Regions from separate parts of the Homo sapiens genome. Here region 1 is linked to region 2. The links come from fine-mapping of genetic effects on gene expression. Tissue or cell type: fibroblasts. Region 2 holds a variant in brackets; the other region holds the start of a gene. All regions are shown on one strand. Distances are from middle to middle.

The links. PIP is the estimated chance that this variant, and not a neighbour inherited with it, causes the effect.
Region 1: TNIK starts here. The variant in region 2 is fine-mapped to the expression of TNIK in fibroblasts (GTEx, PIP above 0.99).

Annotation. Positions count from the first base shown.
Region 1 is chr3:171,452,273-171,468,281 of GRCh38, forward strand. TNIK (TRAF2 and NCK interacting kinase) reads right to left here and starts at 8,133. Exons shown (of 33, transcript NM_015028.4): 1 at 7,735-8,133. The coding sequence starts at 7,791. LOC124906303 (a long non-coding RNA gene) reads right to left here and starts at 5,899. Exons shown (of 2, transcript XR_007096168.1): 1 at 5,674-5,899. It overlaps LOC102724479 (a long non-coding RNA gene), which reads left to right and starts at 6,946. Exons shown (of 3, transcript NR_189068.1): 1 at 6,946-7,119; 2 at 15,812-15,983. RefSeq lists a silencer at 7,763-7,822 and an enhancer at 8,834-9,334.
Region 2 is chr3:171,366,411-171,382,419 of GRCh38, forward strand. It overlaps TNIK (TRAF2 and NCK interacting kinase), which reads right to left. Exons shown (of 33, transcript NM_015028.4): 2 at 3,210-3,275. Among named protein-coding and RNA genes, the nearest start is that of TNIK, 86 kb to the right of the region's middle. The variant A/G (reference allele first, on the strand shown) is at 8,305.

The DNA of each region.
Region 1 (16,009 bases), 86 kb after region 2:
CAGCTCATTGAGGTGCACAGTTTGCAATCTCTTGGTATCTCCAACAGATAGAATAAGAATCCATGGCTATTTAAATGCCCTCAGTCCTGCCTCTAGTTCCCTTACATATTCCAGGAATATGCATCCCAGCAATACAAATTGCTGGAAGTCACCTCCAGCAATTTCTAGTCCAAACCACTCATCTTACATGTGACAAAACTGAAGCTTAGAGGGCAAGGTGTCAGAGCCAGCTTTATGACGCTGGGCTCTAACTCCCAGCTGTGTGCCTCATTAAACCTCACCATCTCCCAAACTCTCTCTACCCGCTCACTGCCAGCTCTGTCAAGATAAAAACTCAACGTTGTCTTCCAGTGGGCCACCCCAGAAGCACACCCTTTCCCGCCCATCTATTACTGTTTAATCAAAACAGCAGTCATAAGTATTATCCGATTGTTGAAATAATTGAAACACACTCCAAACACACACACACACACACACACACACACACACACACACACACATACGCCTTGCAATTCTAACCCATGGTATTTTAAATCTCTCAAAACTTAGAATAAGACAATGGAGAGAACACTTTCCTTGGCAGAAAAATTCTAGAAATAGGAATACCTACCCAGGACCAGGCATAGTATTTCTCGTAATTGGTGCCCCCGGAATTGTACTCTATGTAATTAGCATCCACTGGAATTGTACTCTACATAAAAAGTGTCCCCAGGAGTCATGCAACCTAGACTATAATGTAATTCATGATCCCTGAAATTGTGCCATGGTCAGCAACAGGCCCCACCTTTCTGAGGTTTCTATACTCTCTCTACATAGCACCACCTCCAGCCCTTCTAAAAGGGTTGCACAGTATATATTTTGTTAATTCAAAATTTATTTGTTGAACGAACGCCTGCTGTGTAAAGAAAACTGGTGAGGATCCCTAAGAAAATCAAACGTTGCCTCTAAAAAGGAATTGTCTAGTAGTGAATATAATCCAAGACAGAAAGTTCTGAGTGTTATGAAAGAGGTGTGAGGTCAGTTCTGAGACAGTCTATGAGTGGGAGGGACAACTTGAGAGAAATCAGAGACTTCTGTGGAAAAGGTGGTCTGCGAATGTTCAGCGTTGGGGCAGTAGGTACAGAAAGGAGACTAAGACAGAGCGCCCCCTACAGAGCATCCATGGGGGAATGAAATTGTTCCCTGCCGCAATGGGGGAGTGGTCGTCAAAACTGCAGAGCTCGGTGGGAGGCCCCTCTGAATTGCCGCTGGTCTTAACATGCTAAAGAGTTTAGTTTTCAGTCTGTAGACTAAGGAGACAGAGAAGGCCTTGAATAAAAACAACCAGATTGAAACTGTGCGTTTGGAAGACTCACGTGGCTACAGTGTACGAGAAACCAGTCAGAAGAAGGCTGGTGGTAGAGACACAGGAGGAGGGGAGGTCCTGTTGCGGGTGTTGCCCAGGGGACAGTAACTACAGCACTTGCAGGGAACAGTGGAGACAAGGGGACCCATATGATAAACATTAAGGGAAGAATTTTAAGTTGGGGTGATATAAAATGTGTTTTGAGAAACTGAGGGCACCCCCATGAGACAACCAGGACATGTAAAAAAGAGTGGATAGAATCATGTTTCTCTAAAGGGAAATAAGCTTCCAACCAGACTGGAAGGAATCACAAGCGGAATTCATCCAACATTTTCTACTTAAGTCCTCCCTCTCTCTCCACTAGAGACCTTATATTTATATGTGCAGAATAACATTTCATTCAAAAAATATCATTAAGATTTTCTTAGAATTCTCAGCACACTGCTAACAAACCAGTTTAGGCCCTGTTCTCAGAGAGCTACTTCCCCCACAGAAATGTAAGAATCAATTTGACATTAAAGCATCTTTCAGACTCAAGTTACTCCAGATTCTATCAGGAAGGGAATCAGAGACTGGTTGTGCTCAGCTGGGCATGGCGGCCATGATTCAATCACAGGAGCGCCTGGCTGGGTGGACTTTAGAACCACTATCACTGAGAGAAGGAATGGCGTCGAAACAAGAAGGGCACGGAAGATTAATTCCAGGGCAGAGACACAGAAAGAAGAAAGGCCGAACGGGCAAGACTCGAAATTATAAGATATCAAAGAGTTTTACAGATAAGGGGGAAAAAAGGAATATTTCCTGAAAGAAATGTACTGGGTACTCTCTCATCAACAAAATATTACATGACCTCCTAAGTAGATAATTATGCAAACAGCAAACCATGACTTACACTGGCTTTTGTACTAAAGATTACTCCAGTTAATAATGAATAATGAAAATGATTATGCATATTTCTCTGATGTTCTGATAAATACCAGCACACCCTACTTTTTATGAGGCAATGCCATTGTAAAGAAAACACCTGTTTAGTATCTCTGAAAAATAAAAAGAATATCTAATGAAAAAATTGCCATGCTGTTATCATTTTGAGATACTGTTATCAACTCATGCAACTTTACTAAAATCTCATTTTAGACCAAATTTAATTAAGTGCTCTGGAGTAATGAACTAATAATGTTTCGAGATTTCTTTGAGCCCCATGAGACCTCTCACCAGAAAGTTTTAAATACTGGGCCATTAGTGTATCATTTTATGTGTCCACTCTATCTCCCAAGGGAAAAGATAAAACTTTAGGAAGGCACAGTCATGATCAATGTGTTTGTATTTGAATAATCGGTAATACATAAAGAGAGAAAACTTTTTTTAAAAAAGAAGGTTTTAATGAACAATGCTGATAGTTGATACTAGTTTAGAAATATGTTAATCTCCAAAAAACTTCAGGGCTGCACTTACCTCATATGTAATGAATGCTTAATACTGGGGGCGCAAAGCTCAATTCAGGCCATCAAAGAAACATACAAGGTCACATTGGTACACAAAAGGAAAAAGGCAGCTAAGGTCTGTGGAGGTACTGTTAAAAAGAGTCGGAACCTTCTGATATCTTTTTCTGAAGATTATTTTCCTTCTTTTCTTAGTCTTCTTTTTTTTTTCTTAAACAAGATGTCACTCTGTCACTGAGGCTGGAGTGCCGTGACACAATCACAGCCTCGACTTCTCAGGCTCAAACTATCTTCCCACCTCAGTCTCCCAATTAGCTGGGACCACAGGCACACACCACCACACTGACTTTTTTTTTTTTTTTTTAGAGATGGAGTCTCCCTACATTGCCCATGATGATCTGAAACTCCTGGTTTCAAGCAGTCCTCCCACTTCGGCCTCCCGAAGTGCTGGGATTACAGGTGTGAGCCACTGTGCCCAGGAAAGATAATTTTCTATTAGATAAAATCATTGCAATCAAATGTTGATGGTATCAATTTTCCCACTAAATTCTACTTAACCATGGGATAGCATATTTGTACAGTGCTGTATGGTTTTTAAAGCATTGCCTTAAATACTTTATTGATTTTGAAACCAGTATGTGAGAAAGGCAAACAGTTGTGATGATTCTTATTAACTATGGTTAAATGTCCTACCCAAAGTCACAGAGTGAATAAGAGGTGGACATAGAACTGGGGAGACAGGGTTCATTCCACTCCATTCATTCAAGCATTCATTCACGTACTCATTCATCCAACTAATGGAGACTATGGCTCCAAAGATGAACAAGATCTAGCCTCTGCCCTCAAGAAGTCCACGGTTTAGTAAAGAAGCAGAAAGGAAATCACACACCAAGTAAAACATGAGCATGAAAAGTGTAGCAAAGGGATGTATGCAAGGCTTTCAGATGAGGTCAATTCTTAAATCTGGGTTTCAATGGAGAAAGGAATGGCTAGGGAATGAGGGCTAAGGGGAAAGACAAGTGTAGATCATCTAATTTTGTTCAAATACAAAAGTGTATGTGAGTCCTGGCAGAAGCTGAGAGTATGAGGTCAGCAGCAGCCAACTCCTGGCCTTGAATGCCTTACCCTGTGGGCCAAGTTAAGGACAGCCAAGGTGCTTAGGTCCAGAAATATGCTAATCTCCAAAAAGCTTTCTGGGCTGAGCTCGCCTCATATGTAATAAAGCACACTGGTGGCAACTTTCATCTCTTTTAATACTGAGATGTCTTGAAGCAAGAATGACTCAAGCCCCAGGTTTGAATGAGTAAATTGTTTGCTGTAGCCTATGTATGTATACACACATTTTCATACACCCACGTGGATACGGTTTATATCCATAATACTACACATAATATATGTATCCACATAGATAATACAAAACATACACACAACTCTATAAACCTCACATGCAGAGCCATCTGAATAACATGTATGTTTATACTGACCCCTTGAGACATGCTCTGATGGACACAGGTTACTCAGAGAGGTTACCTGTGCAGGACAACCATGTGTCCTAGGTGATTTCAGACAGTCGTTTGCCTGCAGAGTAGGCATTGAACCAGGGCTGGACAAGATGAATTCCAAAGGTGGCCTAGAGCTCCATGGTTTCATGTATCACAAGCTTACTTGCATGAAGTAGTTTCGCCATTCTCAATAAATAAAATTCCCTGACCCTGGTGAAATTATTCCTTTCTGCTATTCTTTTGTACTCAGGCAGAAAATGTATTATTGATTTCTGATTCCACCACAGAAAGTGTGACTTAGAGAAAAGAGCACTGAATGAGGAGTCAGGAAATCTAGATTATTTCCTCAAACCACGCTCCTCGCTGTCCCCTCCCCTTGTTACTGTGTGACCTTGAACAACTTACTTCACGCCTCTGGGCTTCAGTTTCCCAAGTGTTCAATGAAAGGAGTGGCTGAGTGTTCTACAATTCTCTTTCCAGCTCTGAATCTATAAAACAATTCCAGCCCATCCCTCAAGATTTAGTTTATCTCTGAGCTCTAAAAATCAGGGCTAAAACTGGATTCAAAGTACCTATTTTCTAACCAAAGAAGATCCTGCTTCACTCACTTTTAAACCATGCAAATCTTGCATAATTTAAATGATCAGTGCTGTCATTGGTTGCTCTGGTTTAAATTATGCATTGTTGCTATTTGGGGAAAATTTAGACTGGGTCCGGTCTGGAATCACTGGCTGAGAACAATAAGCCCCCAAAGTGAGAAGGATAAAGGCCTCTCTAGACAGGATCTGCTTTTAATGCTTTGAGCCCAGGGTTTACAAAAAGAGCATTGACTGTGTACATTAAAGAGCCACCGAAACAGCGAGGGACTGGTAAGTCTGCAGCAAATTCTCCCAGAAGCCACTGACCTTGGCTGCATTTCAGGGGTCAGGCATTCCCCAGGAGGGGCTCAGCAGGCAGACTTTACCAAGGGCTTAGGAACAAATGAGACATCTCATCTAGATGAGGCCACCTCTCCAAATGTGGCAAGGTGGAGATGATCTGCCCTCTGATTTGTGGAGATTACCTATGTGGCCTTTGGACCCACTCCAGCAGACACACCTCACCCACAAGACTGGTCAAAGACCCTGGCCCTCCAGGATATAACTGTCTCCACATCTGCATCTAAGTCTTCTAGCCAGCAGTTCCTGGTCCCCAAGCTAGCTGTTGCCCTCTCTGTTTCCACACCTCCCAGCAGGCAGAAAAACAGAAGCAGAGCCCTAAGCTGATAGCCCAGGCCACAAAGAGCAATTTCAGTGAATTGTGCAAAGATATATTTTCAAAATACAGATCACAAGAAAGCACATCCCAAGTGTGAACCGCAGTCGTCCGCCCAGTGGGCCCTCACCGGTTGCTCCCCTGCCTGCAGGCTCCGTGCTTGGTATCTCAGAAAACCTTCCCGAGGAAAAAGCCCATAAGGGACAAGTCCCGGCCCAACTTAAAATCACATCAGACTGCTTTCCAGTAGAGGAGCAAGGTCGAGATTCCGGCCCAGGGAAATCACCGCAAGCCCTGCGCATTGTTCAGACCCCTTCCCCCTTTGCCACTTCCCGCCCCCCACCCCGACCTCCGACCGATTCGCAGCACCCCACCCCCAGTCGGGGCCATCCATCCACCTGATTAACTCGCCGGCAGCAACTCCCAGCGTAGAAAGTAGGGCAAATGAACACACACAGTCGGTAAAGCAGGAAGCCACAGACCTGGCCAATGCACCCACCCTGTTACCAACCCCACCCCGCTGCGCAGGGGGCAGCCGGTTCTTGATGTGGCATTTCCACTCCAGGGAAATAGACAGCTTCCTGTAATAATGCATGAATGAGCTTTGGCTGCCCAACTATCAGAACAGCCCATTTCAAACGGCATCTCTGTTTCTTCTCAACTCCTTACTTGCCTTGCTGAAACCTCATCTCTTAGCCCAACAGATTAAGACGAAGAGAGAAAGACTTATTCAAAGAGATGTGGAGGAAAAGGTTTAATTAAGGAGACCAAAGAGAAAGTACCACTTTGATCACAAAGGTAGCACTTTAATATATCAGTGCAGATAGCGGCAATGTCAGAAGTACTAGGAATCCAGGTAAATGGCCCCAAGATTCAGCATCAATCTAACAATGTATTCCTCAGGAGGGCGTGTGAACTTCCATGCTTCATCCATCCTGGTGTCTCCCTGTAGAGAGCCACCATGAATTCCTTCTCATCCACCCTCCATACATCAAGTATATGCACTCGCTTTCTTTTTAATTTTATTTTTGGTTCGGGAGAGGAAGAAGCAGTCCTTAAATTGGTGTCCAATCCTTCTCAGACACCCGCTGCTGCCACCATCCCCACCCCTCACCCCCTTCCAGGCAGGCAGCATCTAATTAAAATGGCAAGAAAGCTCTGCCCCCTTCCCCAAAGGAGTGTGTTGGGATCGGGAGTTGGGGGTGGGGAAGCGTCGAAGCAGCACTTGGATTCCTGGTATTCTGATCTCAAAACAACAGCAAAATGGATTCTATATCAGTGATGTCTTAGTCAATACAATGAAACGGCGTCTGAGGTAATTCACGTGAAGGTAAACGCAAACCAGTGGGGCTGGGGGGAGGGAGGTGCTCTACAAAGGACTGGCCACAGACACGGGGAAAACACACACAGACACACACACACACACACTCGCACACACTCCAGGGAGTTCCGGTCTGATTGAGGAAAAGCAGAAAACACATCCCTTTCACCTGCTTAAGTTCAGCCATAAAACTGAAACGTTACAGCCACAAAGTCAGAAAGAACAGGCAGGGCTGAGTTAAAGCCATAAATAAAGGTGAGTGGCAGACTGGCATTTAAGGGAGCGCTGAGAGGGCGCCCGGGCGCGGGAGGTAGAAAAGGGGGAGGGGGAGGCAGTTGCCATCTACAAGACCAGCATAGCAATAACTGCCCCCTTGGAGCGGCAGGTTCGGCTTCGCGGGGACAGCCAGCCTCACAATGTCATCTTGCAGGTAGCTGGAAAACGTGAGGGGCCAGTGCCTTTATTCACGCTGGCATTCTTTTTGCAGAAGGGACAGTCGGGTCTCGCGCCTTGGCACCAGACAACTGCCCGGGGCGTGTACACACACACACACACACACACACACACGCACACACGCCTTTCATTTTAATGCTCTTACACCGGTATAAGATGAAACTGGCATAAGCTCTACGAGCCCTCGGGAGAGCCTAAGCCACGGCCAGAGGAAGACACGTACCGCACAGCCCCTGCCGTAGGGGCTCAGCCAGGAGCACCTCAGCAACCCCGAATCAAAACGGGAATCCAGGTTCCCTCCCCGACGCATTCTCCCGCTGCTGTCCCCCTGCCCCAGCCCCAGCCCCCAGTCCACGCACCGAGCCCATTCACCCTAACCCAAACCACTGGAAAGAAACCAGAAAACGTCCTGCTCACCCTCAGAGCCGAGAGATCTATTTCATCCAGGCTTCGAGCCGGGGAGTCGCTCGCCATGTCTACTTCTTCGCTGGAGAAATGGACCAAAACCACCCCGAAGCTTTTCCCTTGGAAATTCCACCTTGGTCTATTTCACTCGCGTCCTCATGCGGGTGTCGCGCCAGAGGCCCCGGGCCCAGCCTCCCCCGCCCACCCCAGCCCCACAGCGCCGGATCCCGATCCTCCGCGCGTCGGTCCGCCGGGTCCGGGAGCCCAGCCTGCGCGGATCTCCAAGCCCCGAGCAGCGGTGCGTGTGGGCTGAGCGCCCCGATCGGCTAAGGGCGCTGGGGCTGCGTGGGTGTATTTAAATGGGACATGCTTCTTTGCTTGTGCGTGGATGGCGGCTGCATTGGCTGTTATAATGAGACACATCAACTCCTCCACTCAGCAGGGGGAGGGTGGGGGTGGAGAACCACGCAGAACTGTCTATCACCGCTTCCTGGGAGGAGTGAAGGGGGAGTGGGGAGGCGGAGGAGGCGTGGTCTTGGACTGGGGAGAGGCCGCGCTTCCTGACCCGGTCCCTCTGCACCAGCGTGGAGGGGGGAGGGGCGCGCACCCTTTCCGCCCAGGCTTTTGCGGGCTCCTCGGGCCGAACCCGAAGGGGCTGTTCCTGAACCTTGACTTGTTATCATAGGGACCCAAGCTCTATTTTTGTGTGGCCAATTCGTGCACTGCAGCAAAATGGCCCTTCAGTCGCGTCTTGGGGTTTCTCCTCGGTTCAAATGCTCTCGCGCTGAGAAAAAGCCGGAGGAAAAAAAAGCGACACCCTCCCTCCCCCATTAATTATTTGTGGGGCCGGAGTAACGCGGGCTGGTGCAACCGGTGCATATAAGGACTTGTGTGCAAGGAAGGGGATCCGCCTCCAGGCGCGGAAAGAGTAGGGAAGAAGCGCACACGCACAGTGCACCCAGCTGGGCGCTTCGGCAGTTTGCAGCTGCGGCGGGGTCGGGTCCACCCGCGGTCCCCGGAATGCCGGACGGCTGATCCCGGGTGCTGGTCACTCGCCGATTCGGGGCTGGGAAGGTTTGCCAGAAGCGGGAAAGATGGGAGATCTGAGCGCTCTCTTGGCATCGCCACACCCAGGACTTGCTCGTGCCGCAATTCCCCACGGAAACAACCGAGTTGAAACGAGAAGCTTGCTCTCTGGGTGCAGTAGCTAGAAGGCTTCAGGTAACTCCAAAGCCAACACTGGGTGAGGCAACACACGCCGCCTCAGGACTCAGCATTTCTTTCAGGCTGCGTTTTCGTGGCAGACCTACCCAGATTGATGGAGAAAGTTTGGCTGGCGGATAAGAAGTAACGCGGAAGATGTGTACGTGAGAGCGATTTCACTTCACTCACTTTCTCATTTAAAGGTTGGATGTTTTACAGTGGTATACATGATTCTCCTTCTGTAATCAAGAGTGGGAAGTCGCTTCCCCCAATCCCCGCGCAGCCCTTCTTCTCCCGCCTTAGCCATGCAAAATACCTAGAAAGAAAACACTAAAACTGAACTTTTTTCCAAATACAGCAGTAGCTTTGAAAGCATTCTTTGCTCCTCTGTTAACAGCAGAATGTAATTCTGACCACTGCACTGATGGTTTCTTAATCATGCAGTATGAAGATCAGCTTCAAAATAAGTCTTATGAATGAATGAATGAAAGCCAGTGCAGTTAGTTCATCATGACTGCAGACATTAGAGGACTTTGAAACAACCTTTGGTGTACATTGTACTGTTTTTGTTACTGATATTGTATGTATTCATATGCATTGTGGATCATGCACCATGAAACTTGAAAATTGTTCCAACATCTCAATGGCCACAACAGTTTGGTAGCTTTTGCCTGTAAACGTTGTATGTAAACATTTGAACGTGTTATACTAAATTACTAAACTCATTTTTTACTAAAATCATCTGGTTCGACATAGTAAGTAACGTGCAGTAAGCCACCACGTCGAAATGAAAAAAAAAAAACAGATTATTTCCCATCATTGTCTTTGTTTTTTTCTCTTCTGTGTTCCTGTTTTTTTACCGTTCATCTAGACAACAGGTTAATGTATTGTCTCAGGGTTGAAAGAAGATAATTTAAGATCAAGTATTAAGATCTATAAACAACTATTTTTTTAAAACTGCAAACATAAGGAAATATGAGTTAAATATTTTTTCCATGGAAAGCCTTCGTTTTATACTCATGATTATATTTGAAACATCACAAACAGATCAACTTTTTTGACATTAGTGAGCTGTTTGGGCCACGAGGGTGCCAAGTTGGCATTCAGATTTAGTTTAGTTTTAGATGAGAAAGTTATAGATGCAGTATGATGCCAGGTGCTAAATGGAGGAGGGCTTCCTAAGAGCCTGAGAAGTTGATGAGACAGCCAGGGGAAGGCAGGGGTGTGGGCTGCAGGAAATACCATAAAAGGAGAGATTGCAGTATCAAAGGGACCTCCAACTGGTAAAGGAAGGTGAGAAGGAGGAACTTGAACTTTTTCCTTTTGGTCAAGTGTGTATCAAATTTCAGCTATTCCAGTATAAATTTCCTAATTTTTTCCTATGTCTCTGTATTGCCTGTACTATTTTACCACTTACTTAACATTTTTCTTTAAATCAACACTTTTTTCTTACACTTAATATAAAAGAAAACATAAATCACTACTCTAAATGGAAAGCCAACAACACTTGCTTTGAAAAAAAAAGGGGGGAGGAAACCATTAAAATAAATATAATGGAAAATAAAGAAGTATTATTAAATTCTAGCTAGCCATCAATTCCTGCTCTGGGCTTCTAGCCTAAGGCCTACTCTTAGTTTGTTAAAAGAGAGAATAGCAAATACCAGGAAAAACATTCAAGACTTGAGATTTTTTTCTTGATGTAATCTGAAGGATTAAGAGAACTGACACCATTTATGTGCAGTTTGAAAACCTGCCGAATAATACACTATGCTGTTTACATATGTATAAATATGTAGTAAACTATATAAAGCATGGATACAGGCAGTAAGGATACAGATTAACTTCAGGATAATGAGAAAAGAGGAAGAGGAAAAGGAGACTCCAACAATGATACCTAATTTTTTTGCTAAAGATTTCTGCCAGGCACGGTGGTGGCTCACACCTGTGATGCCAACATTTTGGGAGGACAGGTTGGGAGGATAGTTTGAGTCCAGGAGTTCGAGACCCGCCTGGGCAACTTGGTAGAACCCCATCTCTACAAAAAATACAAAAATTAGGTGGGCATAGTGGTACACCCCTGCAATCCCAGCTACTAGGGTGGCTGAGGTGGAAGAATTGCTTGAGTCCGGGAGGTTGAGGCTGCAGCAAGCCAAGATAAGCCACTGCACTCCAGCCTGGGCGACAGAGGGAGACCCTCTTTATAAAAATGAATAGAAAATTTGAATAATAAGTAATACTATGCTGCAGATATTTTTCTAAGCATTTGTTCTATCTGAATGTTTGTGTCTCCCAAAATTTATGTGTTGAAACCTAACCCCCATAGTGATAGTATTAAGAGGTGGAACCTTTAAGAGGTGATTAGATCATGAGGGCAGATCCTTCATGAACTGGATTAGTGCCCTGAGAAAAGAAGCTTGAGGGAGCCTGTTCGCCCTTCCACCACATGAAGATGCATAGAAGGGGCCATCTGTGAGAAAGGAGCCCTCAGCAGACTTCAAATCCGCTGATATCTTGATCTTGGACTTTCCGGCCGCAGAACTGTGAGCAATTCTGTTTCTGTTGTTTATAAATTACCTAGTCCAAGGCATTTAAGTAATTTAAGTAACATGGAGAATAAATCCAGAAGGCCCAATATTCATCTGATAAGGGATCTAGAGAATGGATGGAAGGAAATACTCAAAAAATGGTAGAAAATATTCCAGTATCTTGACTGGGCACGGTGGCTCACACCTGTAATCCCAGCACTTTGGGAGGCTGAGGAGGGCGGATCACCTGAGGTAGGGAGTTCAAGACCAGTCTCACCAACATGGAGAAACCCCGTCTCTACTAAAAATACAAAATTAGCCGGGTGTGGCAATGCATGCCTGTAATCCCAGCTACTAGGGAGGCTGAGGCAGGAGAATTGCTTGAACCCTGGAGGTGGAGGTTGTAGTGAGCCAAGATCGTGCCATTGCACTCCAGCCTGGGCAACAAGAATGAAAAAAAGAAAATATTCCAGTATCTTTAAGTAAAAAGCTCTCATTTAGCTCTGAGCCAAATGCATAGGTAAAAAATAACACACTTAAACACCTCACAGTGAGATTTCAGAGCATGAAGGATAAAAAGTAAATCTTAACTGGATTACCTTCTCATCAGCAACAATGGATGCTAATAGACAATGGAACAGTATTCTAAGGAAATCATTGTAATGGTGTTTTGTCTTGTTTTGTTTTGTTTTTGAGACACAGTCTCTCTCTGTCACCCAGACTGGAGTGTGTGGCTGGCTCATTGCAGGACCTCAGTGAGTTCAAGCTATCCTCCCACCTTAACTACCTTAACCCCACCACCACCCAATAACTGAGCTGGGACCACAAGTGCGTGCTGCCATGCCTGGCTAATTTTTTTTTTTTTTTTTTTTTTTTTTTTTAGAGCTGGAGTCTCAGTAAGTTTCCTTGGCTGGTCTCAAATTCCTGGGATTCCACCTCGGCTTCCCAAAATGTTGGAATTACAGGTGCAAGCCACCACGCCCAGCCTCTAAGGGAATTGTTTTTAACCTAGACTACCAAACTAAATTAGCACTTAAGAGAGGGTACAAAATAATGACACATATTTTCAGATATGTAAGAGTTGAGATTGCTGCCCATCCTTGAAATTACTTTTAGAGAATGTCTTCCACCAAAGAGTAAACTGAATCCAAAAACAAAGTGTGTGTTACAAAAGACAATGATAAACAAAGGTAGCAAACTCTGTTACCTGCTCAAAGCCATTCTTTCTTCCTTACTAGTAAAACACCGATTTTGACAATTTACCCTCCATGTGTGTAAAACATATAGATTCTCCCCAGCCCCATTCTATTCTCTCTCCTAATGATTGGTTTAGACATAGGCATATCATTCAACACTGACTACTGAGAAGTGCAGAGAAGTCTGGTAGGGCTTATAGATATGGTTTTCCTCCATCGGGCACCGTGGCTTACGCCTGTAATGCCAGCACTTTGGGAGGCCGAGGCGGGCGGATCACCTGAGGTCGAGAGGTTGAGACTGGCCTGACCAACATGGAGAAACCCCGTCTCTACTAAAAATACAAAATTAGCCAGCCGTGGTGGCACATGCCTGTAATCCCAGCTACTCGGGAGGCTGAGGCAGGAGAATTGCTTGAACCCAGGAGGCGGAGGTTGCGATGACCCCAGATCACGGCATTGCACTCCAGCCTAGGCAACGAGAGCGAAACTCCGTCTCCAAAAAAAAAAAAAAAAAAAGAAAGAAAAGAAAAGAAATGGTTTTCCTCTTTGAAAGTTGAAAAAAGAAAAGGAAACAAGGAATAGGGAAGGAAGATCGGAAGAAATGAAGGAAGAAGGAAGGAAGAGAAGACAAAACAAGAGAAATGGCCAGGAAAAGCTTCCTTCCCATGGTAGCTATGCCCAAGATGATTTCCAATGAGCCTCACTTTCTGGTATTCACACCCTTGTGTGGATCCCTCCAACATGGAATACAGAGGACTTCCAAAGCTGGGTAATACAAGGCATTTCAGCTTTTACCTTGCTCTCTTGGCTCACTTGCTCTAAGGCAGGATTTCTTAACATTAGCACTATTGGCATTTTGGGCCTGATAATTCATGTTGTGAAAGGCTGTCTTGTGTCATATAGGATGTTTAGCAGTAACTCTAGTTCCAACCCACTAGATATCAATAGCAACTTTCCAGTTATGACAACCAAACACGTCTCCAGATATTGCTAAATGCCCCCTGGTGAGAAAAATCACCCACAATAAGAACCAGAGCTCTATGGGAAGCCAGCCATCTTGTCCCACAGATATTCATGCAACCTGCCTGCCATGTTGATGAGTCGCTTTGAAGTGGATCTCTAGCCCCAGTCAAGCCTTCAGATGACTGCAGTCTCAGCTGATTCTGACAGAAACCTCATGAGAGATCCTAAGCTAGAAGCACCCAACCAATCTGCTCCCGAATCCCTGACCCACAGAAATCATATTATTAAAATAATAAACTTTATTGTTGTTTTAAGTTGCTTGATGTGTTATGCAGGAAGGGATAACTAATACATTATTTTCAGACAGGGTTGTGTGAGGATATAATAGCTGGAACTATAGAAGTCTTCTTCCTACCAGGGTGGGAGGAGCTTCAAAAAAAGTGAAAAGATGAAAAGAACCTGGATCCTGCATGACACCATTGAATCACTACATTAACTAACCCAGGAACAAACTGTCTTTGAATTTCTTTTTGTGTGACATAAGTTTTTCTCATGGTTTAAGTCAGCTTTAGTGGAGTATTCTGTTTTTTGCACCCAACCACTTTCTGTTATAGAAAATTTTAAATTTTTAATTGTTTTCATCATTGCTAGTTAATAAAAATAAATAATGATAGTCTATAACTAAATGATGTTATCACAAGGATAAAAGGCAAGAAGAGGAGGAAAAGCATGCTAAGATTTTTTTGTCTTATTTGGAGATGTATATAGATACTATCTCTAAACACAGAAAAGTATATCAATTATGCATAATAAACATAAGGTCACCACATAGATGGATACAAATTGGATGTTTAAAGTACAGGCTACTTGAATGGAAAAAAAATGAAACAAGAGTAACTATGAATTCAATAAAATAAAGAAAAGAAAAAATATCAACCAGAATGAGTAGTATGAAGAACAAGTTTTTAGAGTGGTGGGGCCCACCCAGTATCCATTCTGCTTTGGTATACTGTGGTAGGCAGAATAATGGCCCCTCATCGACGTCCACGTTCCAATCTCTGGAACCTGTAATTACGTTACCTTACAAGGCAAGAGGGACTGTGCAGATGTGATTCAGTTAAGGCATTTGAGATGAGGAGATTTTCCTGGATTATCAGAGTAAACCCAAGTAATCACAAAGTTCCTTAAAAGTAAAAGAGGGAGTCAGAAAAGGACTCAGAGTTAGAGGAAGATGTAATATGAAAAAGGCACTGAGAAATATAACATTGCTGGCTTTGAAAATGAAGGAAGGGGCACACATACACCAAGGAATATGGGCAGCCACTAGAAGCTGAATCAGGCAAGGAAGCACATTGTCCCCGGGAGCCTCCAGAAAGGAATGCAGCCCTGATAACATTTTTTTTTCTTTCTTTCTTTCTTTTTTTTTTTGATGGAGTCTTGCTCTGTCGCCAAGGTTACAGTGCAGTGGAGCTCACTGCAACCTCCGCCTCCCGGGTTCAAGTGATTCTCCTCCTGAGTAGCTGGGATTACAGGCATGTGCCACCATGCCTGGCTAATTTTTGTATTTTTAGTAGAGATGGAGTTTCACCATGTTGGCCACGCTGGTTTTGAACTCCTGACCTCAGATGATCCTCCCACCTTGGCCTCTGAAAGTGCTGGGATTACAGGCATGAGCCACTGCAGCAGGCCCTTTTCATTTATTTTATTTTATTTTTTGAGACAGGGTCTTGCTCACTTGTCACTGCATTCCTAGGCTGGAGTGCAGTGGTGAGATCACAGCTCACTGCAGCCTTGATCTCTTGCACTTAAGGGATCCTCCCACCTTGGCCACTGAAGTAACTGGGACTACAGGCGCAGGCCACCACGCTTGGCTAATTTTTCAATTTTCTTGTAGAGATGAAATCTCACTATGTTGCCCAGGCAGATCTCAAACTCCTGAGCTCAAGGGATCCTCCCACCTCAGCCTCCCAAAGTGTTAGGATTACAGGGATGAGCCACCATGCCTGGCCCCTACTAACATCTTGATTTTAGCCCAGAAAGACCCATTTTGGACTTCTGACTATAGGATAATAGATTTGTGTTATTTAAGTAAAGCCACTAATTTTGAGGTGATTTGTCACAGCAGTGATTTAAAAAAATGAATACAAACTTCTTTTATCCATTTTTATTTTTAAATCATTGTCTCTTTTCCCTTGGTTACAGATTATTGTGGCTGTCACTCAGGTTTTCTGCTCATTGGTAGACAAAGGGTGAGGAGGTGACTGAAATTGGAACAGTGGAAGGACCCTTCACCAAAACCTGGAACTTCAGAAGAATGGCAGGGCTGAAAATGATTAGTGTTAATTCATTCCAGTTGTGTTACCCTACCCATAAGGTATGACTAGAGACCACTCCTCTTTC
Region 2 (16,009 bases):
GGCTTTTATATAAAATATTTATATTTCTATATCTAGATGTACCTGACTCACATGCAGATATATTTCAAGGTGTTCTCTGAATACCTACATATACTTTTTATTTATTATATTAAGTATGTTTCTTTAAAACTACCTGTAAACAAAATTATATTATGACTCTCTTAGGGCAGCTTATAAAAAAGAAACTTATAATAAATTTTTCCATAAAATAAGGGCTATGTCCATATACTTATTCATAAAATTATACCTGACTTTATGAAAACCAGGAATGCCAAAAGAGAGACTTTAAAAATTAAAATCAAAGGCTTAGCATTTGATATGGTTTGGCTGTGTCCCCAACCAAATTTCGTCTTGAATTGTAGTTCCCGTAATCCCCATGTGTCATGGGAGAGACCAGGTGGAGATAATTGAATCATGGAGGCGGTTTCACCCATCCTGTTCTCATGATAGTGAGTTAGTTCTCATGAGATCTGATGGTTTTATAAGAGGCTTCCCCCTTTACTGGGCACTGATTCTCTCTCCTGCCACCCTGTGAAGAGGTGGCTTCTGCCATGATCGTAAATTTCCTGAGGCCTCCTCAGCCAGGCAGAACTGTGAGTCAGTTAAACCTCTTTCCTTTATAAATTGCCCAGTCTCAAGTATTTCTTCATAGCAGCGGGAGAACAGACTAATACAGTATTTAACAGAAAGAAAATACTTATCATATGATTTTATGTATAAGGACCTCCTCCTAGAGCTATAACATTTCTATTTATACCTACAGTATTTTAGAAACATACATATTCCATAAAAGTTGCATAATCTATAGTGCAATCACTTTTTAATGTAATTTACTTAGGCTCACATATCTTTTAGCTCGTATTTTGCTATTTTATTAAACTTTAATCTTTTAGAACTCAGAATGACAGCAGGACTGGATTAGTGGCCTCAGGAAACACAGGGTCTGCTCATGAGCAGTGCCACCTAACATCGTCTGGTTGCCTAGAAACCAAACCCTTAAATAGGTAGGTAGGGAGTTATAATTCTTTAAGTAAATCAACACAAGGCCCCATAGCATTTTTTTGGGGGGGGGGGGAGGGGACAGAGTCCCACTCTCTCGCCCAGACTGGAGTGCAGTGGCAAGATATCGGCTCACCACAACCTCTGCCTCCCAGGCTTAAGAGATTCTCCTGCCTCAGCCTCTCGAGTAGCTGAGATTACAGGTGCATGCCACTACCACCTGGCTAATTTTTGTATTTTTAGTAGAGACAGGGTTGCATCATGTTGGCCTGGTTGGTCTTGAAATCTGAGCTCAAATGATCCATCTGCCTTGGCCTCCCAAAGTGCTGGGATTACAGGCGTGAGCCACCGCACCTGGCCAGGCCCCAAAGCATCTCTAACTACATTCTCATTTGACTAATACACAGAAAAGCTGTGGTGGCTACAAAACAATGGGGCTGGTAAAAGAGAGCAAATCTCCTGTCCCAAAGTTCACTGCATTCACCATGACCATTCTTTGCAGAATCTCCCTTAAACTTGGAAGGTGCCATAGTACTGTATCAACCACCAAGAGAATGGAATCCTTTAGAATAATAATGTTGACAACCTAGCTGCTAAATATCTTCCCTCTCTAAAAAGATCTGAGACCTCTTGCCATTTGTTTCCTTGCCTTTTTCAAATAACAAGAAATTATGGATAATTCTGGATTTTCCAAATATTCTCATCCTTAATTGAATCTCTTGGTATCTCCTCTTATAAGACTGCAGAGTTTCACCTCTTGAATTAGTGTACCAAGCTGTGAAATGTCTCCCAAATGTATATTCTATGGGTGGGAAACATAATGAAACGGAAAGGCTCTAAGAAATGGCACCATAAAACCAACAGCATGCTACAGAGTTGCTCCTTCATATTGACAGCAAATCAGAAGTAATTTTGTACCTAAGTCAGAGCTTAATTCATTAGTTACTTCACAAGTTCAATCCAGTTTCTCAAAATGCAGTAACACAATCTTCCAACCTAATTATCTTCATTGAAAGTATTTAAAAGCCTTTGCTGAGACACATTTCTTTCTGTGTCAGACAGGATCAACGTCAAGTGAGCAGGTTGGGTAGACTACATTCTGTCTAATGGTAAAAGGTGTACAATTTAGGAAATAATCGTTTCTTGCAAGGGAGAATTTTCCCCTGGACACCAAAGGAAACCTCTCGTAAATAAACATATAAATGTGTATCCACTTAGAATCTCGAGAATACCCTATAAATAATACTTTTGACATTCTGCAGAATTGAAAATATTACAACCTGAATGATTTCTATAATAAATTTAATTAACTGAGAGAAGTTTAGGGCTCAGGAGGAATTTTTAAAAATAGAACACGAGATAATTTGTAATGGAAATGCCATCCCATATCGCTGCCACTAGGGAAAATGATGGATATTTCCCTAGAAATTATCATGAGGAAACAGTTGGTTTGTTTTGATGGCATTTCAATAGCTCATTCAATGAAACCCCAAAAGTTTCAGTCCAAAAACAGTTCACTTTCATTTTTTTTGTTTTTTTTTTTGACAATCAGAAAAGGAATCAACTCACATTTTCAACCAGCCATTTTTCGTAGATTATACTTGGGGAAAATACCTTTTAAAAACACTTTTTGAGTGAATTTGTAAGCAGAAATTAGTACACAGGCAAGCAAGACTTCTTATTCCACAGCTCAGTCTCAACTCAAGTTTAACTTTTAATTATTTCCTAAAATTCGTCGCTGCTATTAAGCTTTTGCTTTGTGAGGTAACCCAGTTTTCTTCCAACACTGTTCACTCCACTCATTTAATTCATGTCCTAGGCCAATAACACATCTACTTTTCCAGCTGTAATAGTTTAATAGCTTAAATTTCTGAAGTAGATGGCATTCTTTTCTCTTTCAAAAACCAGTTCTGGCAGTGATTAAGTAAAGGAAACTGAACGCTTGAAGAGCTTCAAATATGTGCCATCAGAATTCATGTGTCACATACAAACACAGTAATATATAATGAAGGGAAATACCCAAATCACAGAATCCAGTTTAAGCAACATAACCACAGATATATTTTAAAAGATGGAGAGTCAATCAACAAGTATATTAATTCATTTTAAATTTGTTAGGAGCCATTTATGAGCCAGTATAGACAGCACTGCAATTTGTCATTCATGAACTGAAACCGTACATAAGCCACTCTCAGACTCAATGTACTTACCTTATAAACTTGCCCGTATGTTCCATTTCCAACAAGTTCCACCAATTCAAAGATCCCTGCGGGGTCCTGAAAGAAAATAAACAAACAATAAAAATTCAAAACAATATTCCAGGCATTGCCTTAATCAAAAGCAAATACTTATTTAAATTAAGCAAATAAATAACAACTTTAGCTTCAGGGGCTCTCATGTGTTAACATTTAATACTATCAAAATTTTAAAATTTAAGTCAGCTGCAGCTATGAAATTAGCCAAGTTCTATTTTCTTTCCATTTTACATTTCTATGAAATGTGTTTAAATCAGGCAAAAGGAGATGCTTTTTCAAGTGAAATAATAAAAAAGAAGTAACACATTTCTCACTGTTAAATGGAAAAACACACTTGCAGGAGCTACAGCAAGATAAAGTGAAAGACTCATCATCCTGAGAAGGTTCTAATGTTCCAGGGTATTTCTCTTTGAAATATCCGAGCTGTTCATTGTGTTGAGTGAGCCCTGGTAGCTAAGAAGGGTGTTCGTGCATTGTGGGGCAATCTTACCTATGGTAGTCAACAGTTTCCAAGGGAAAATAGAGTCAACTTAACTACCTCTCTCAGAAAGTTTTTCTTTGGATTCATCTCTTCTGTAATACTGCCTCTACAAAATATACTTTTGAGGATAGCCTCCAGTTCCTGCAGTACCTGCTGAGTAACTGCAGGATTTAGAATGCAAACTAAATTGGAGAATTATTCAAGTTCTTACCACCAATCAGTTGTCCACTAACCCCAGGAGTCAGCTAAATGTTACAGCGTTCAATAAATATCCAAAATTACTGCTATTATAACTGAATTACTATCCCAAAAAGTTGAAAAGAAAAATCAAAGCCAATAAAATTCTATTCAGAGGCAGAAATTGACTTTCACCCCTTACTGATTCCTAACTGGACAGAAATTGCTTCTTTAAAGGCATAAATCTAGGAGTCACAAACTTAAATGTCTACAGAGGCCAGGCCAGTAACATAAACAAGTAAAGTGGTCCAGTTGGGGCCTGTGGCAAACTGGGCAACCCGAGCCTCCTTGAGGGAGGTAGGGTATGGTATGGTAGGGTGGGGTGGGGTGGAGTTTACTTAGCTGGAGCCACTTGTTGTCTTGTCAACATATGAGCACAATATTGCCAGGTCTAAAGATTTTTCAAGAGAAACTGAACATTGTATTTAATGTGAGATCTCCTATTTTTTAAGTTTTAGGCACTTAATTTAAAAAACATTCTTAGGAACAAATAAAAATAGACTGCGCCTTTGGCCTGTCTCTACTGGACACTTACATAAGAGCAATGCCATATATTATTACAATGGGTGGCTAAGAGGCAGGGAGGGAACAGCCTGAACTTCAGATTCAGAGAGACCTGGGTTAAATACCAGCTGTGCCTTGACCAGCTGTGTGATCCTAGGAGACCCCGAGAAAGCAACATATTGTCTGGGTCTGCAGGGATGACATCTACCTAGCCATGCTCTTGTGAAGAATAAGTGTGGGCTTTGCACAATGCCTTTCAAGTAGTCGGAAATCTATTAACACCTAATAGTAATCACTTTTAAGCTGAGAAATTCCACACCACCAGCAGGATTTAAATGGGGGAAGGGGAAAATGAGTTTATCTGCTATTCTGGGGAAAGGGAAAAATGAGTTTGATCTGACAAGTCAGGATGCTTTAAAGTCCAATCTGTGGTAAATCAAACTCAAGAAAAGCCCCTGCGTAGGTGCCTTCAAAGATTCCACACAGAGAACAAATAAAAACAAAAACAAAAAGCAAACAAAGCACCCAACAGATTAAGCACTTAGTCACTGAGAAAGATTGGAGTTAGCACTACATTACCTGCTCTTACAAAGCCAGAAGGGCAAGAAACCACACTCCATGCTCATGTCCTGAAAAATCCAGAAGTCCAGAAGTTCCAGTTATGCCCCACCTGGTCTGGGAGGTGTGGTTCCAGACAGAACCACAAAACCGGAAAACACTCTTAAGGGACTTAGAGCTCTGAGTCGACCAACACCCCATAGTTAGAAGACACCATCAAGGCCACCTGGGAGGCCTCAGGATCGGGAAGAAAAATTTTGTTGGTTAAACTACTAGGCCATTAGAGCAGCAGGTTTTATTACAAATGGAATTAGAAAGAAATGAGGAAAAGAAAAAAAAAGCCCATAAATGGTGGCAGCTGCTGTTTGTTTCTAAGCTGTGCTTCCCAGTAGTTTGTTTGCTTGGTGGTGTTTCTGCAACATATTTGGAGAGAAGTCCTACATTTGCTTGAAATAGCTCAATTGTGTTTTCAACATTCATTTTTCTTAACTAAAAAAAAAATAACAGAAAGAGAAGAGATACAGGACAGTGATGAGTGGCTGCCTCAAGGAACCTGGGAATCAAACAGGGATGTGAGATGAGGGCAGGAGCACAAACAGGTGCAGAGCAGGAATCAGCTTCTACATCCAAAGGTCACTCGCCTCAGGGTCCCCTCTCAGAGCTGGGGTTAGTAGGTAGGTCTCAGGAAGATCTGGACAGCTGACTTGTGAGGCTCTTTTCTCTCCTTGAATAATCTATTCTTGGGTATATGTCCCAACCAATCAAAACCAAGGAGGCTTAATGCTGAGCCTTTAGTTCAAACTGCTAGGAGAAGGTTTTTGCTGGACACATCCAAGGGCCTCAGAAGTAAAGTTCAGAGGAACTAAAGAGTTCTACTGGCAACTGGCCTTGCATAGGCAACCAAACTGGAAAGAATCATCATATCAGATGGGTTCCCCAGGAATAAAACCTGAGACTCCCTGAGATTTATACTGTGTGAGTTTATTGGGGTATGCCTCAGAATCAACACCTGCCGGGGAGTAAAGGAAGAACTGGACTGAGCCAAAGGAAGAGCTGAACTGAAATGTAGTGGTAACAAAAACTTCATCTGATCCATGGAAGTGCTGGAGCTAGGACAGCCCTGGAGAATTATCCTACCTGGAAGCATCAGGACTTTGCATCCCATCTCCATTGACTAGTCACTGCATGTGGGATGCCCCCCAATACCCGTCCCAGAGGTAACAATCTTAGGTGAACTGACACTGTTCAGCTGAGGACATTTTTCAGATGAACGTCATCCCTAGCTACCTACACTCCCAGAAGGTGGACAACTGAGTGCCTCAGCAGTGGAGAACTGAGCTCTGTGTGACATACCACAACATACACTACAAGCACCATGGCTAGAAATAAGAACCAGTCTGGAATCAAAAGAGAAGTCTATAAGCATCTACAGTCTACAGTATCCTGAGAGTAACAAAGCAAAATAGCATGAGTCATGGTATTTGCAAGGAGGGGGCTCTTTGAAACCCTAGATATGGAAGTCAGAGGTATTATTCAGTGACACCTCAGTACTGACCCTAGGCTCTCTTCTCTCTTTCCCCCAATCCAAGCGCCTGGAGAGCTGAATGTTTGTGAATAGTCTTTCACACAAATGCATTTCATCATTAGTTACATCCTTGTAGAATTGTGATACAGCTTGAACAGTATAAGCATTTAGCTGTTTTCTCCATTCTAGAGTACCTCTAAAGTAATTTCCCCAAAAGGTCACCATGAACCTCAATTTCTTACACATAGTGGTTGCTTCTCAGTCCTGTCCTAGTTGTCCCTTTTGAGGCATTTATACTCCTGAGCATCACTACTCCTGTTGAAAATATATCCCTCCACCATCTTCTATCATACCTCTTAGTCTCTCTCACAGATTCTATAATATTTCTTCTGCTCACACCTTCTAGGTACCTTCCCCTAAGTTTCCACCCTTGTCCACCACTCCCCTAATTTTGTTCACTAAGTGTCAATGATCTTATCTCCAAATGTCCACCATATCCATCTACTCCACTCCATTCACACAACAGGCTTCATCATCTTTTTCTGGGACCATTTGCTTTTAGTTAATTCTTTCTTCCTTCTAAGCTATTCTCCATACTGATCTTTCTAAAACAGACATTTCTAATCATGACACTCCATGATTTAAAATAATACAAGATACGGTTCAAACTGAAAGTCAAGGTCATGTCATTCTTAGGCCTGGCCTCGATTCCCAGCCTTGTGTTCCATCATTCTGTACTATAACCAACACATGTCCCTCATGTCCCTAACATACCACACTCAGCTCTTGGTTCATACTGCCCATCTGCCAAGATTATTCCTTCTGCTTTCTTTATGAGGCAAGCCCATCCTTGAAAGCCCAGCTTGCTGCCTCCTTTCTGAAGCCCTTCTTAAATCAGCGTCACTGCCTCTCTCTCTCTGCAGCCGCAATATGTTGTGCACAGCTCTATGATAACCATTTTCACATAGTGCTAGCCTCTCTTACATTTCTCTCCCTTGATGAATTACAAATGCCTCAAGAGCAAGCACTGTAACATATTTATCTTGGTATTTCCAGCACTTAGCATGCTGTCCAATACATAACTGCTAGATATAACTATTTACTGAATAAGGTTGATGTCCCACTCCCAATTCTTCAAGACATGTATAGTGCAAATCACAAAAAATGGGATCAGAATGTAGAGCCAAAGGTCTAGCAAACTTACATCATTTCTTTTAAATCTAGACAAGTTGTTTTACCACTGTGCCCTCTATCCTCCTTACCCCAATCCCAAATGGACAAAACTGTCACATGTAAAAGCCCCTGTAGTATTCCCAGCTTAAAAAAATAAAATCCATAGAGCCTGTTGTAGTAAACTGTGCCTCACGTGCATTGAGAAGACAGGCTGTCAGAATGTGGCCAACAGAATGTGCAGCAAGGAGAGGAAGCTGTACCTAATAATCATGTTACAAAGACAGGAAAGCTAAGAGATAAGAAATCCACTTAATTCTCCCTCTTGTGTTTGCTTAGCTGCTCTTAAAGCCAGGATGAGCAGCATGGAAGAAAGTTACATACACCAAGGAGAAAAGAGCAAATCATTGACATTTACCAAAGTCAAGAATCCCTGTTGGCCACACATGCCTTTATTCAGATCTTAACCTTTGCTGGGAGGGTGAGAAGAGAATTTAATTCTAAGGTAGAGTAGTTTACATTATTTCATAATGAAATATAACTACATATCAAAAGGTAGACTATTCCTTGAAAGA[A/G]AATGTAATTTTTCAGCCAGTACTGATAAAAGCAAACTTGGTTAGTCATGACAATAAAAATTACAGTAATAGTGAACATTTCATGAGGACTTATGTGTCAGAAACGATTCTAAGCATTTTTCATGAATAGCTCATTTATCACAGCTTTATCAAGTGGATGCTATCATTATCTTTGTTTTACAGATTAGGAAATGGAGGCACGGAGGGATTAAATGCTTAGTCAGGGTCACACTACTAATGAGCGGCAGAGCCAGGATGTTGACTCAGATGGTCAGACTCCAAACCTTGAGTTCCTAATCACTATATCATAGCTTCATGGAACCATAATCCCCAGCCCTTGGTTTACCACCTGGTAGCTCTCTAACCTTGAGCCAGTTTCAGAACTGCATTGAACCTCAGTTTCCTCATCTTTAAAATGTGGACAGGATTACCTCCCTTGGGAGATACAATGAGAACTGTGAGTGTCTAGACTAGCTTGGGGCCTGATATGTAATAGGACTTTAATAAATATTCATTTTCTTCCTCCCTTTTCTTTTTCATCTTTGAAAATGAGTTCATGTAATAAACAAAGAATATGCCACAGTAAAATTCAGTCCGCATTTTATAGATTTTCAACTAAAAAAGCCAATAAAACTAATCTGGCCAGTAAACGAAAACCTATTGCTTTTCAACCAATAATATTACCCACCACATGCTTAGCAAACAGAGTCAGGTATTTATGGACAAAATGTATGTCTCTTTAAAAATTAGTTAGACAATTGAGAAGGCGCATTAAGTTTTGGGGGTTCCTTGGATGTTGAAATAAATACTCTTTCTTTCAGCTGATGAAATTTAGATGGCATTGGCAGGCTCAAGCCCAGCTTCACAGCAGAGAGGAGAGATTTAAGATCTAGGGTTTGATATTCCCTGCCACTAGGTTATGCTTTAATTCCTCCAGGTCCTCTGAATGATACTGGATTTATAAGAACACTAAATAACACCACTGGGCTAAATCCCAAAGATTGAAAAAGGCAAACTTAAGTCTGTAACTAGGATGACTATTTCCTTCACATCATAAAAGATGATACATATTCTTTCCAATGCCTCCCCACTTCTTTGAAAATGAAATTGACACGGATCATGAGCAAATGGCCTACACAGACTCTAGACACCCCTCCTCCAAAACGCCTCTTAAAGACACAGCCGTTCTGTGACAGAATCTTTTACTTGAGGCCACCAGTCCTCTGGCAGGGTAAAATACACCCAACAGAATACGGATGGCTGATAGTGCTCCCAGAATGACTGCTACCCCCGGATTCCCTATTGACATCTGCCAAACGACTGTGCTTACTCTAAACTTACGGGCCTTAAGAAGACCAAAATGTTATTTCTTTTAGAACCATATTTAGCAGCTGTTTTGTTTGGTTTCAGCCCTAACTGACAAGCATATGCTTACAAAAGCAAAACAGAACAAAGAAAACAGGAACAGTAGGAGAACTCTCCACATTTATCTTGAGGCTTCAGGCTTTTCAACATCATCTTCGAAAGTACAGCATTAGGAAACTGTGCTGACTCAACAACCCCCAGATTCTAGTTTATGCTGCACTCACAGCCAGGCAAGTTCCCTCAAAGGTAATTTTTTACTTTAACTTCCCCTCTTCTAAAGCAGTAGAGGTTTGCAGAGTCAAAGGTCTTGCTTTACACAGTAAGATTTATTTAATCCCTGACTGCTACCTGGCACCCTCCCTCGCCACCTACTGTGTGTTATACACTGTCCAAGGTAGAGGCAGTGGGGTACATGGCCCCTGCTTCATGGTGCTTCCAATCTAAGGAAGGAAGCAGACATGAGCAACTTACTACACGTACATAGTGATTAGATCATCATAACGACAAGCAGCATATGAGAAAAGGTGCTCCAAGAGTATTGATCCAGGAGATCTGGAATATAGCCCAGAAGCATATCTTCATTAACCTGCTGGCCCAAAGAAGTCATCTCAACTGGAATAGATAATTCAAGTAAAAAACATAAATATATACAGATAGATAGATAGATGATAGATAGATAGATAGATAGATAGATAGATAGATAGATAGATAGATGAGAGAGATATGGCTATAGGTAGGTAAAATACTGATTGTTGATTTTTCTTACTTGATCATCAGTGTAGGACAAATTAAACTATGCAAACCTATCACAGGACTGGTCCAAAACAATTAGGGTTCAAGTCTGGATTCCACTCCTTACTAGAGTTCTTTCACCCCTCATATTCCAGTTTTCTTCATCTGTAATTTGGGAAAGTGCCCTTTGGCCTGCATTTTTACAATGTCGCATCCTGCGTATGAATGTTCTAGGTAACTCCCCAGCTCCCTGTGTCAAGCATCGTCTTTTGGGAAGGGCTGTCCTGAGTGTAGGCTGATTCCAGGACACAAACTGCTCCGATAGAGCTGTTCCTGGCTAGTGTTGGTATCCTCTTACTAATACCAGCTCCTCAATGATCAGCTGGCTACTGGCAGAACACAGCCAAACCTCCAGGAACTAACCCTCGATACTGGTAGCTTCCAGTTTGGCTTTCATCTCTCAGAACAGGGAGACTGGAGCCTCCTCACCTCCTGTTTGGTTTGCAGTCTGCTTAGTTTCACCTGCTAATGTGCAGCAGCCAGCAGTGACACTGCTTTAGATCACCCTCCCCGCTCAGCTGCTTCACTCAAGACCCTGCAGCTCCAGCCTGTCCTCACAAAGTCGGCCTTTAGAACTGGATTTGAAACATCACTCCTCGGATTAATCACTGCAAAACCTTAAGCTATACAATAAGCTATAATAGGCATTATCGTTGTCATTGGGATAGGCCATAGCCTAAATGCTTTTCATACATTTTCATATTTCTTCCTTATGCAACCTGAGAAATAGGTATTACTAACCCCAATTTTCAGATGATAAAACTAAGGCGTCAAGGAATTAAGTAACTTGCCCAAGATTAAACAGTAAGTGGTAGAGACAGCAGCCAAGACCAGACTGTAAAGTAAAGGTAAAAATACCTGTCATGGAAGATGGTTCTGAGAATCCAAAACAACATATATAAAGCATTTAGCACAATGCATGGCAGTGCTTAATAAATAATGGCTACAGACATACTGCTCTTGCTGGTGGTATTAAGAGAAGTTTCCCAAGGTGATGACAACATTGGTTCATAGTAGAGCCAGGATTCAAATCCAGGTATTTTGAATCCAAGTCCATTATTACTCATTTCTCTACAAATGGCCAATGCTGAAATTAACCTGGGGTTACGGGGATGCTGAAGGCCTTGTGGGTTAACAATAGAGCCAGAGAATGGGCAGTGACCTCAGGACAGGAAACCACAATGAGCCAAATGGCTGGGAGCATAGAAGTTTTCTATACCATGGTTGCTTGGTGTCCCTGCCTCTTATCAGAGCCAGAAGCCCCAGAGAGGGAGAGCAAACAGGCTCTCAGATTTCTATCTAAAGCTAGTTTCTTTTTTTCCTACTTTGCCATTAGCTAGGATGAATGCTAATTACTTTAAGCTAACCAATTAATTGACAGTGAGAGGCGGTATAGCATAATAGTGAAAACCACAGACTCTACAGCCAAAAGCCTGAATCGAATCCCAGCTTCACCATTTTCTAGCCATATGACTTTGGGCATGTTATTTAATCTTTCTATGCCTGTTTCTTCAACTATAAAATACTGATAATGGTAGTACCCACTTTGCTGGATTACTTGATATAATAATTAATATATATAAAATGTGTAAAGCAACATCTAGCATATTGTAAGTGCTTAAAAAGTGTTCGCTAAAAATTCTTTACTCAAGAAAGAATAATTTCTTTACTCCAAGAATGAATAACTCTTATTGGTTTTGTCCACTGCAGTATCTCCAATACCTCGATCATGACTGGGACATCAGAGATATTCAATAAATATTATCTGGATGGAGCAAGTCCTCACATCACCACTTCTTCCACCGACAGCCACAATGCGGTAAGGTCTGTGACATTTGCAGCGAGGATTTCTGAGATCATATCAATAAAATATCTCTACCCATTTTACAGAAGAGCAAAGAGAGGCCCAGACAGGCTCTATATACTTATGCAGTTATAGATTTCTCCAGCAAGATAGTTTAGGTGATTTATCTGAGGTCTTATCCTAGTTAGTGGCAGAGTTAAATGAAGACCTATGTCTTTTGACTTCTAGTTTTTCCTTCTGTTTGATTTCACCCTTTAGTAAACCGATGGAATCACCCATTGCCTTTCAAAAAGTGGACCTGGAAAGGAAGGAAACAGGGACAGTAGGTAGGATGGGCAGGCCCTGCTGTTCTTTTGCAAAATCTAGGTAGTTGGGTTAAGAAATCGATTTCATTCATTTCCAGAAATGATGTAAGAAGATTTAGTGCACATGGCCAGTTTGACAGTCCATTTAGTAGGTCACATGCATATATATCAGCATAAAAGATAAATAATATTTTCAAAATATATTTTTCTCGGTTCACAGACTTAGCATATTCATACTCACAGTTAGCTCAGTTCAAAATTATTTCCTTACAGATGAAAACAAATAATTCTACATAAATTGATTATTGTCTACTAGCTTACATTGCATAAATAAGTATATACAACTAAGAATATAAAACTAAAAAGAGAACAATCCAAGGACTTCTTGTAACACTGACTTGAATATTTTTTCTGATTTTGGTGCATAGCACAGCTATTTTAATCCTTTGTCAGCTGCTGGGATTCACTGGCCAGCCCTTCTCATGCTTCTTGACCTGAAATTCCCAAGTCACGACTACAAACCTGCTTGTGCACACAAGGAATGCACAAGCCCCAACTGTGTGTTCAGAGACTGTTTTCTAACACATTCAGAGTCAGAGAAAGGCACACCAACTCCATAAGGCAAGTTAAGAAAACTCTTCAGGGTACTAAGCCACAAGACAGATATTGGAGAAGGATAGCTCTCTCCATCACCTCCTGTAATTTTTCTCAGCTCTTCTAAAAAAGTCTTTTAAGAAGCATACATGCAGGCCGGACACAGTGGCTCACGCCTGTAATCCCAGCACTTTGGGAGGCTGAGGCGGGCAGATCACGAGGTCAGGAGTTCGAGACCAGCCTGACCAACATGGTGAAACCCCATTTCTACTAAAAATACAAAAATTAGCTGGGCGTGGTGGTACACGCCTATAATCCCAGCTACTCAGGAGGCTGAGGCAGGAGCATCGCTTGAACCAGGGAGGTGGAGGTTGCAGTGAGCTGAGATCACGCCACTGCACTCCAGCCTGAGCGACAAAAGCGAAACTTGGTCAAAACACACACACACACACGCGCACACACACACACACACACACACACACACGCAAGTTGCTTTAAAGGTCAATATGCACATGACCACCCCCAACCCCAGCCCCTGCTCAACCTGGTCCCTTCCCTCCCATCATCAGGTTGTTGCAGAGATTATACAGCTGTTTGGGAAAATGTATCATACAGTTTACAAAGATTTGCAAACATGGGATCCTTCCAGACCTGTCAGGACAGGGTAACTTTCCAGTATTTCCAGCAAAACGAGGTGGAAATGATGGGAACCAGACTAGCAAATATTTTGGCCTTTTGCCTTTTTGAAGATACTTAGATGAAGAAAAAGATAGCAACTGCAGGAGATGGATTTAAAGACAAGAGCTGGTTACCTAAATAATTAAGAAAGAAAGATTAGGAAACAATTCAAGGTTCTGTTTTGGAAGAAGAGCCTTAACGGGACCATTCCCCCAGAGATACTCATTTACCACCTGCTTACAACAGACCAATGACACGTTATTTGCTTGAAAGAATTTTCAACTGTTCTTCCTACACCTATAAGCAACCATGAAGTTGATTACAGGCAGAGGTGAAACTTTTAGGTAAAAGGGACCTAACTCTATTCTAAGTCTAATAGGAGTATGAGGCCCCCTTTACCAGCTGCCTACCTGTCCCCACCCCTCTTCACAATACAGTGAGCTTCCTTCTTTGCCCTTTGCAGAGGGAACCTCTGATGAGGGCAAGAGTTGTGCACACTGAAAGGGGCAGGGTTAATGCCTTTCGGCCAAGGGCCCAGGACTTTTCTATGAGTAGGGAAATATTGGCTGGTTGATTAGATCATCTGTTACTCTCCCATTTCCAGAGAAGGGTGAGATGGCCCAGAGCCATGTAGGAACAGCCAGGAGCCCAATAATAGCTACCTGGAGCAGGGACCTGTCATCTGGCAGAGGTACAAACCAATCTTAGTCCATCACTTGGTGTCACCAGTAATGGTACAGATGGCTGACCAATACCAACTCTTATAAATCTCATACAGATGTTAATAACAGGGCTTCATTTGCATCTATTTTTTTTTCAAGCTTTTATATCTATGGCTAGGCCACCGTGAAGGACATACAAATTTATTTGCTTGCTTATTAGTTTTGCAAGGCAGATAACATTTTGGAACGGGGGATTTATACCATCTGTTCAAGGATCTAAAAGCTTTTTGGCAGACTCAAGAAGCTAAAGCCAGTCCTTTTGTCCCTCCAGATTTCCATGGGTGTTGAATTTCCACTGTCAAATAAGTTTGGGAACACTAGGTTAAAAAGATTAGCAGGTTAGGGGTTTCTTTACTGCAAGGCCTCTCAAAGCTTTTAATGTGTTAATGTACCCTGTGAATCTCCAAGACAGGGCAAAGCTTTTCATATTTTCCTAACTTGTCTGGCCACAGAACACTCCTTAAGGAAGCTTTGTATCTCCTCTAAGCACTGATATTCTGCAGAGCATAGAATGGAAAATGACAGTGTATAGAGCAATCTTTTCTGTGTCATTCCTACTTAACTAAAGCTTGCATCTTAAGTTACTGTAACAGAGATGGATCAATGCCACCCAATATTCATTCTCCCCTTGCTCCTTAACAAAAATTCCAATTTTATTTGGGAGGAAATGCACCCAGCTCAAAATCTACATGCCCTTGTCCCACTGAAGCTAGGAATGAATACATGACTAAATTCTGGCCAATGGTATGTAAGCAGAATTACTGTGTGGGGCATTCAGAAGGGCTGCCCAAATGGAGCTGACTTAGCTGGGAGAAGGGTTCTTCTGTCTTCCTCCCTCCTCCTTCCTGCTGCCTGGAATGCAGATGTAATGGCTAGAACACTACAGCCATTTCTGATCCTGAGGTGAATTTAAGAATGGAAGCCTTATGCTAAGATTGTTATAGCGGAACAATAAAATGATCCTATGGTTCTGACGATCATGGAGCTACCATGCTACCGCTAAGCTGCCTATGTCTGAACTTCTTTATCTTGAAAGAGAAACAAACTTCTATCTTCCTTAACCCACTAATATTTTGAGTTTTCTGTTTGAAGCAGCTGAAATCTAATTGATTTACTTTGAAGTTTACTGTTCAGATATTTTTATTCATTTATGTTTAACTAACATTCCTTCTTTAAAGGACTCTTCTCCATTAGCCTTTTGCTCTTTGGTAGAGGTGGCAGTCTCTAAGGTTGTTGAATACATCTTTTTTTTTTTTTTTTTTTTTTGAGACAGTCTCGCTCTGTCAGCCAGGCTGGAGGGCAGTGGCATGATCTCAGCTCACTGCAACCTCCGTCTCCCGGGCTCAAGCAATTCTTCTGCCTCAGCCTCTGAAGTAGTTAAGATTACAGGCGTATGCCACCATGCTCAGCTAATTTTTGTATTTTTAGGAGAGACAGGGTTTCAC